Homo sapiens: one gene and its partner. The protein of the gene in region 2 interacts with the protein of the main gene of each other region in a pairwise test. Each region holds a gene or a part of one and is shown on either strand. Other genes may lie near its edges.

Region 1 (4,285 bases), on a different chromosome or scaffold from region 2:
TTCTCCAGTGTCTGTTGTTCTCATCTTTATTTCCATGTGTACCCAGTGTTTAGTTCCCACTTGTAAGTGAGAACATATGATGTTTGGTTTTCCGTTTCTGCTTTAGTTTGCTTAGGATAATGGCTTCCAGCTGTATCCATATTGTTGCAAAGGACATGATTTCATTCTTTTTTATGGCTGTGTAGTATTCCATGGTGTATGTGTAACATATTTTCTGTATCCAATCCACTGCTGATGGGCTGGGTTGTTACCATGTCTTTGCTGTTGTGAATAGCATCAGCACTTGTTATTGTCTGTCTGATTTTTTTAGAAAAATATTTTTAGAGACAGGGTTTCACTCTGTTGCCCAGGCCAGTGCAGTAGTACAATCATAGCTCACTGGAACCTTGAACTCCTGGGCTCAGATGATCCCCAGTATGAGCATCCCAAGTAGCTGAGACAAAGGCCCACACCATCATGCCCAGCTAATTTTATTTTTTGTAGAGACTGGGTCTCGCTGTATGGCCCAGGCTGGTCGTGAACTCCTGGCCTCAAGTGATCCTCCCACCTCCACCTCCCAAGTTGATGGGATTACAGGCATGAGCCACTGCACCTAGCTTTTGTCTGTCTTTTTGTTATAGTCTTCCTAGTGGGTACAAAGTGGTATTTTATTATTCAGTAACATTCTTTCAACTGTTCTTTTATCTTTTTCATTACAGACTCTATCTACTAGCTTATTGATATGGTAGGTGAGGATTTAGCTGTTTTAACACGTCCTCTCGGAAGCACACTTACCTACCCTTTCAACGTCTTTCCATCTTTCTGTTTCCCAGTCAGCTCTATCACAGTTAGATCGGAATTCAGTGTTATAACTTAGTAAACAATGTTAGCAGCTGAGCCCTATATTATTATCATCACATTTCCTTTTTTTTTTTTTTTTTGAGACAGAGTCTCACTCTGTCACCCAGGCTGGAGTACAGTGTCACAATCTCAGCTCACTGCAACCTCTGCCTCCTGGGTTCAAGCCATTCTCCTGCCTCAGCCTCCTGAGTAGCTGGGATTACAGGTGCGCGCCACCGTGCCTAGCTAATTTTTTTGTATTTTTTAGTAGAGACGAGGTTTCACCATGTTGGTCAGGCTGGTCTCGAACTCCTGACCTGATGATCCGTCTGCATTGGCCTCCCAAAGTGCTGGGATTACAGGCGTGAACCACCATGCCTGGCCCATCACATTTCCTTTAAAAAAATTTTTTCTTGTGTTAATAATTACTAATTTTGTTTGGTCCTCCCCCCACCTTCCCTCATTCCCCACCAATGTATGTATCATTATTATTCTTAGGCTTTTCTGTTAGCTCTCAAAAATCCCCCTCAAACAGTTAAACACATTCGTAATTCATCAGTTCCTTTCCTCCCCTGGAGCCCACAAGTGTCCTGCTCCACTTTGGAATGGTTTCTCTCTAGGCCAGCAGTCCTCAACCTTTTTGGCGCTAGAGACTGGTTTTATGGAAGACCATTTTTCCACAGACCAGGGTTGCGTGGGGTGGGGTGGATGGATCGGGAAATGGATCATTTCAGGATGAAACTGTTCCACCTCACATCATCAGGCGTTAGATTCTCATAAGGAGCATGCAACCTAGATCCCTGGCATGAGCACTTCACGATAGGGGTCACCCTCCTATGAAAATCTAACGCTGTAGGAGGCAGGGCTCAGGCCATAATGCTCGCCCTCCCACTGCTCACTTCCTGCTGTGCAGCCTGGTTCCTAACAGGCCACAGACCCGTACCTAGTTCGTGGTAGGGACCCCTGCTCTAGGCCTCTGGCATAAACGACATCTTAGGACTTTTTCACTGTTATACTGGGGAGTAGTTAGATATTAACCTGGATTTATCTACATTTCTTGTATTTCTTTTAAAATCACTGTTATTTTATTCTAGTTCTGGAAGATTTCCTCAAATTTATCTTCCAAATCTGCATTTTTTGCTTACCTAATGAAAAATGACATAATTTCCAGAATGCTTCCCATTTATTAAATATTCCTTTGGTATTTTTCATGGGTGCAGTACGTTTTTTTTTGTTGTTGTTGGTTTTTTGTTGTTGTTGTTGTTGGTTTTTTTTTGTGTGTGTGTGACAGGGTCTTACTCTGTCCCAGGCTGGAGTGCAGTGGCATGATCTCGGCTCACTGCAACTTTAACCCCTTGGGCTCAGGCAATCTTCCCACCTCAGCCTCCCAAGTAGTTAGGACTACAGGCACAAGCTACCATGCCAGGCTAATTTTTGTATTTTTTGTAAAGACAGGGGTGTTACTGTGTTGTCCATGCTGGTCTTAAGCTCCTGGGCTCAAGAAATCCTCCTTTCTCGGCCTTCCAAAGTGTCGGGATTCCAAGTGTGAGCCACCACACCCAGCCTGTCTTTTATATCTCTGAGCATACTGGTGATATTGTCTCTGTTTCCTTCAAGTTCCTTTTTCTCTTTTTTAGCCTCTTGTCTATCATATTAGAAGCTTTCCTCAGATTATCTTTGGTTGTCTGTTTGCATTTAAGAGGGAGACTGCACAAAGCTATTTGGAAGCTGGTTTATAATGTTTTTTGAGAGGTTGCTGAAAGACAAGCACTCCACTAAGCACTTTATATGCATTGTCTTAACTGACCTTTACACTGCTCCTGTGAGGTTCTTATTTCACAGATGAGGGACATCTTGAGGCTTAGATGATACAACCAGAAGAAGGGGAACCAGGATTCAAACCCAGATCTGACTGTCTTCATGTGATTCTTTTATCTATCATATTGTTTTCCTGCCCCCTTCTCAACAAATGCTTTTTGAATATCAGAAAATCCCTTGAGACCCTTAAAGTCAGATAGAAACAAGACAGACAAATGTAGTCATTCAAGACACACAATTGCAGCAATTACAGATGTGTGTTGAGACAAAATTGTGAATATGATTGTTTTGGAGGTTGGGGGAATGGTCAGATTGATATGTTATTTTTTTCTGTTAACCTCAATTCCAGGGAGCAGGTACATAACCTGGGAATACTAATATTTGTGTTAGTGACATGCGAGGCTTGTTCCAACAGGTCTAGAAAAAAAAAAGGAAAGTAAATAAATGCTAAATTAAAGGAATCATTATGGGTGATACTATAATACAAGAAAGAAAGTATGAAGTATTATTTGGGAAGACCAATATTGAACACATATGCAGCAATGATTTATTATAGTGCTGTTTGTCTAAGAAATATCTTTTTTTTTTTTTTTTTTTGAGAAGGCGTCTCACTCTGTCACCCAGGCTGGAGTGCAGTGGCTCGATCTCAGCTCACTGGAACCTCCGCCTCCCGGGTTCAAGTGATTCTCCTGCCTTAGCCTCCTGAGTATCTGTGATTACAGGCGCGTGCCACCATGCCTGGCTAATTTTTTTTGTATTTTTAGTCAAGACGAAGTTTCATCATGTTGGTCAGGCTGGTCTCGAACTCCTGACCTTGTGATCTGCCCACCTCAGCCTCTCAAAGTTCCGGGATTACAGATGTGAACCACCACATCCAGCCAGAAATATCTTTATATTAGAAAAATTAGGCCAGTGACTCACCCTGTAATCCCAACACTTTGGGAAACTGAGGGGGGGAGGATCATTTGAGGCCAAGAGTTTGAGACCAGTGTCTACTGTTCTCATTTTTTTTTTTTTTTTTTTTTGAGACAGGGTCTTACTCTGTCACCCAGGCTGGAGTGCAGTGGCGTGATCTCGGCTCACTGCAACCTCTGCCTCCTGGGTTCAAGTGATTCTCCTGCCTCAGTCTCCTGAGTAGCTGGGATTACAGGTGCACACCACCATGCCCGGCTAATTTTTTTTGTATTTTTAGTAGAGACGGGATTTCACCATGTTGGCCGGGCTGGTCCTGAACTCCTGACCTCAAGTGATCCACCTGCCTCGGCCTCCCAAAGTACTGGGATTACAGGAGTGAGCCACCGTGCCTGGCCTACTGTTCTCATCTTCATATCTGTGTGTACCCAGTTCCTCCCCATTCAGCTGGTCATTGAGAGACCTGTCAAATTTTCTTCCTAAATAATTTTTGGATCTGCCCTTCACCATCCTTGGTGGTGAAATGCCAGGTGGAACCTTTATTTCCTATCTGAATCATAATAGTTTGATTGATTTTTCTGCCTTGCTCTTTGCAGAACCATTCATTATACCTTCGCCTTACCATTTTCATTCCCCTACTAAAATGTTAACCCTGGGTAGACAATTAATAAGCCTTTATAACAGGGACAATCATCCATTCTCACCAATTCCATTTATTCTCATTTTCAATGAATGA
Region 2 (5,071 bases):
GTATTTTTAGTAGAGAGAGGGTTTCACCATGTTGGCCAGGCTGTTCTCGAACTTCTGAGCTCAAGTGATCTGCCCGCCTCGGCCTCCGAAAGTACTGGGATTACAGGTGTGAGCCACCGCGCCCCACCCATTTGTTAACAGTGTTTTGATGCCCCTCCTCTTTTAAAGTTGAAAAGCTGAAGGAAACAGAAATTCTTATAAAATGGAAAACTTTAATTGTTTAAAGAAAAGGCACAAGTAAACATTTCAGGTTATCATACAATGTTACAATAAAAAATTCCAATAGCAAAATGAAACACATTATAACTTTGCTTCTTGGTAGTATACTGAATGTATTATTCTATCATCTCCTCTTTGGAGTAAAAAGAAGGGATAGGCAGATCAATGGATGTGATGTAAAAACTTGGATCATAAATAGCATCCACTATACCTTTAACCAGAAATTAAACTTCAGTAGAATTAAAATTAATTTTTAAAACTTAGTTTTGTTAATAATAGAGCAGCAGTAACTTTCAAGCTAAAACTCATTGTTTTGGTAAGTAAATAACTGATTTCATGAAATGTTCGCTGTCAATGTCTGGTATGTTAATATACATTAATCAAGCTGGTCATGAAACAGTTTTACCAAAATATAATTCATATACTTATTTTACTTTAAACCTGAATATTACAGTACATTATATAAAAGATAAATGAGAATAAGGAACTAAATTATTTCTTACGATGTCAGAAATAATATACTTAAAAAGGTGTAGACCTTATTTTCAATCAAAGGCACTATCTGGAGAGTTAACAAGCTGCATCATGTTCAGAATTGAGAAAAAGTTTTTCTCCTTCCCAAATAACTGGCTGATTAGTAGAAACCTGTCATCTCAGCAAACACTGAATACCTAGTATCTAGCCAAAAAACAAACAAACAAACAAACAAACAAAAAAGACGGTGGGGGCAGAAATTGTGTAAAATTACATCTTTGACTTCTTTTCCCAGGATTTTTTTTTTTTTTAAAGAGACAGGGTCTTGCCATGTTGCCCAGGTTGGAGTGCAGTGGTTATTCTTTCACAGGTGTGATCATTACACACTACAGCCCCAAACTCCTGTACTCTAGTGATCCTCCTGCCTCAGCCTCTTGAGTAGGTGGGACTATAGGAGTGTGCCAATTTCTAAAAAGGCTGTTGAAGTGTTTTCTTGATCTAAAAGTGTCTGTTTCATTAACTCAATGCAATTTCCATTTTATTCACATCACTTGTATCCTCTACTCTCAGCTTGTCAACCCAGGATGGCAATGACACCAGGAAGGTAACTGTCCCAAGGGAGCAAGCTTTCTTATTATGAGTCATTTCATTCACTTTTCTCCCCTGAATATACTCAACTCTAAGTGTTTAACTTAATAACATTCAAATATCACAAAATGTCAGTAATTAAATAAAATTCATCGAGAACATTGTTCAATGCTTCAAAGTCTTGAACAACATACTTACATTAATTTGAATGAAAAGGAGTCAAACCAAGGCATAATATCCTATTGCATCCTAAAGGCCTGGGAGATTTTAAACTCTTCTAAGGTGTATTTGAATCAGATCTTCAAAGAAAAGAGTGTTATTTCTAGTTTTTTGTTGTCCAAATTACAAGAGTTTCAACGGATTAAGGTTTCCTTACCATGATTCTTTTAACACCTAATTCCTAATCAGAAATGGTACTTAAGAATATCAACGTTTAGAATTCAAACATGATTCTAGAAAATTTCTTATCTTAAAGTCAAACTATAACCTTTACTCAATAAAGCATACTCTTAAAGGTCTGTGATGCATGCTTTAAAGAACAGTGATGGGATTCTGGAGTTCTTTCCTTTCTTTCTCCTTCTCCAAAGATACAGATATCTTTCTACAGTTTTCTATGGAATAAGAGACTTCATCATATAAAATGGCTGGCATGTTTTCCCTTTTGAATAGTTCTGATTATAATATCCACCATGAAATTTTACGTTTCCAAATCATAAGCTTAATAGCAAAAGCAAACAATTTGACCTACCACTGAGCTAAATTGAAGAAGAAAAACCTGCATTTTAGAGTATCTGTTATCAAGGGTTAGCAAACTTTTTCTGTAAAGGATCAGATAAATATTTTAGGCTACCTGGGCCATATGGTCTCCCTTGCAATGACTCAACTCTGCTACTGTAGCACAAAGCGGCCATACACAATATTTAAAAGGGTGAGCATGGGTGTGCCCCAATAAAACTTTACTTATGGACACTGCAATTTGAATTTCATATAATTTTCATGTGACACAAAATATCAGTCTTTGGAATTTTTTTCCCAACTATTTAAAAAAGTAAAAACTGGCAGCTGACTGCAATAGCTTGTAGGCTGCACTTTGCTGACCCCTGGTCCAGATCATTCAGATTTCTTGATGTGAGGGTCAAAGCAATAATGTGGCCATGCATCATCTCACTTCACTTGGACATTGATAGCTTTCTGGGCTGATAGTATAGAACTCCGAACAAAAATCCCCAAAGCACAAGACAATCCTACGAGTAAGTAGTATCTACACTCACAGACTGTGTAGAGCTTGTAAGTGTTGATACTCATCTATCTATCTGTATATATATTCAGGAAACATTTAAATCAAATTCATTTAAATTATGTTGTCAAAAAAGCAGGGAATTGCCAGGTGTGGTGGCTTACGTCTAGTAATCCCAGCACTTTGGGAGGTCAAAGTGGGTGGATCACCTGAGGTCAGAAGTTTGAGATCAGCCTGGCCAACATAGCGAAACCCCATCTCTACTAAAAATACAAAAATTAGCCAGTTGTGGTGGCGTGCACCTGTAGTCCCAGCTACTTGGGAGCTGAGGCAGGAGAATCGCTTGAACCCGGGAGGTGGAGGTTGCAGTGAGCCAAGATCGTACCACTGCACTCCAGCCTGAGTGCAGTGAGACTTCATCTCAAAAAACAAAAATAAAAACAAAACAAAACAGAGAATTGAGAAATTCTTCAGCTGAACCCTTTCAAAAGCTTTGGTGTTAGGGAGATCTAGGTTAAAATCTTGGCTCTTGCTGGGAGCAGTAGCTCGCACCTGTAATCCCCACACTTTGGGAGGCTGAGGCAGGAGGACCACTTGAGGCCAGGAGTTCAAGACCAGCCTGGACAACACAGTGAGACACCTGTCTCTATATTAAAAAAAATCTTGGCTCTGCTACTTACTAGCTTGTAACCACAGATAAGTTATTTAACCACCAGAATTTAGCCTGGTGTTAAGGACAGACACGCAGGGGTATGTTTTCAATTTCATTTCTCAGGCAAGCAAATAGCTACAAAAACCTTGCTGGAAAGCCTAGTCCACAACGTACCTGAAGGCTTAACTCCTAGTTTTTGACAGAAAACTACTTTTATCTCTTCTACTCTATTTCATATTTTTTTTTTTGCCGCATGCAACATACTGTGCAAAACTGTGCCTCCATACATACTGAATTCTACTTTTCTCTTCCAAGGCTTTTTCCATAGGTTAACAAAATGTTTTTTTTTTCATAGGCTAACAAAAATGAGAGTAGAAAGTACCCAGTCAACATATTCATGTCGTCTTTCCATAGTGCAAGTATAATTTGGGTGTTTTCTCTAACTTATCAGTGACAGGCATCCTGTTTTCTAGGAAATAATATCTAAATGATATAGGAAAAACTGGTAGGAAAGGATTCTTATGGCTTTATCTATAGAACAAAAACTAGAGATTCTGAAGATCATGTTAATAGATTATTTGTAGATATAATTGCTATGTTTCTTGGACCTTAGCCCATTGCTTAAATTATATTCAGTAGAATATTAGCACTAACTAATATGTGCTATAACCTCTTCAGTCATGAAAAATTTAGTAGTTACATACACATGAAATAAAAGATTCCACCAACAGTGTTTTTGAACAGGCATCAGTTATGAATCTGCTAGTATTGAATGCTAAGCAAAATACTAAAGCTCTTAAAACATTAGTGTTTTATTTTTAACTTTTAACCTATTATTTACAGAAGTCCTGTTAGATGCTGAAAGCAGTCATTTTGCAACATGTATGTTCTTCATATAAAATGATGTTCAATGTTAGGTGGTACAGATTTATAAATATGTACAAACAAAACAGTATGTCTGTAGTTAACCTACTACTCTAGTAACCAACACATGGAAGCATCATATGCACATAAAAGTTAAACATTAAAACAAAACTTAAAACTCTCAAAACAGATAATCATGAATTTGTGTTTATAAAATTATATAGAATAAAGGCTTTGTGTGTGGGGACTTTCAGTGGCCCACCAATAATTTTCATGAAAAAATAAAAATAGAAAAAAAAAACCTCCCAGACACAAACAGACAAGGTAGGCTGGGTGCAGTGGCTCACACCTGTAATCCCAGCACTTTGGGAGGCTGAGGCGGGTGGATCACTTGAGGTTAGGAGTTCGAGACCAGCCCAGCCAACATGGTGAAACCCCATCTCTACTAAAAATACAAAAAATTAGCCAGGCGTGGTGGTGCGCACATATAGTCCCAGGTACTCGGGAGGCTGAGGCAGGAAAATTGCTTGAACCTGGGAGGCGGAGGTTGCAGTGAGCTAAGATCACACCACAGCACTCCAGCCTGGGTGACAGACTGAATCTCTGTCTTAAAAAAAAAAACAACAATAAAAAAAAAAACACAAGGTAAATCAGATGTATGTCTTGGTCAAATGTCTGTAGACAGCCACCTTGAGAACAAATTGATAAACATAAATACACAATTTGCTCACTGAGCATAAAATATTGCACAAGAGCAGTTTTGTCTGAAGAAAATTCAATTTTCCATAGTTTTGAACTTCAGAATGGTTCCCACATATAGATATAGTTGCATTTTCTAAACAAGAAACATTAATATTCAGTAATACTGTTAGAACCTTGTTTTACACATTAACCATATACCAGTCTACTTTATGGCAATGGTAAATCAGTGGTAAAGATTTGGCAAAGATAAAAAGGCAGATAAGACTGTAAAATATATATATATATATATATATATATATATATATATATATATATATATATATATATGTACATAT

Evidence for each region.
Region 1: the proteins of EVI5 (region 2) and FAM161A interact in binary tests that used the Homo sapiens proteins (3 or more experiments, as listed by UniProt).

The regions. Positions count from the first base shown.
Region 1 is NC_000002.12:61,830,061-61,834,345, reverse strand, and holds part of FAM161A (protein FAM161A), read left to right. Parts: intron 1-4,285. UniProt on the Homo sapiens protein: Involved in ciliogenesis.
Region 2 is NC_000001.11:92,508,504-92,513,574, forward strand, and holds the end of EVI5 (ecotropic viral integration site 5 protein homolog), read right to left. Parts: 3' UTR 193-5,071; downstream 1-192. UniProt on the Homo sapiens protein: Functions as a regulator of cell cycle progression by stabilizing the FBXO5 protein and promoting cyclin-A accumulation during interphase. May play a role in cytokinesis.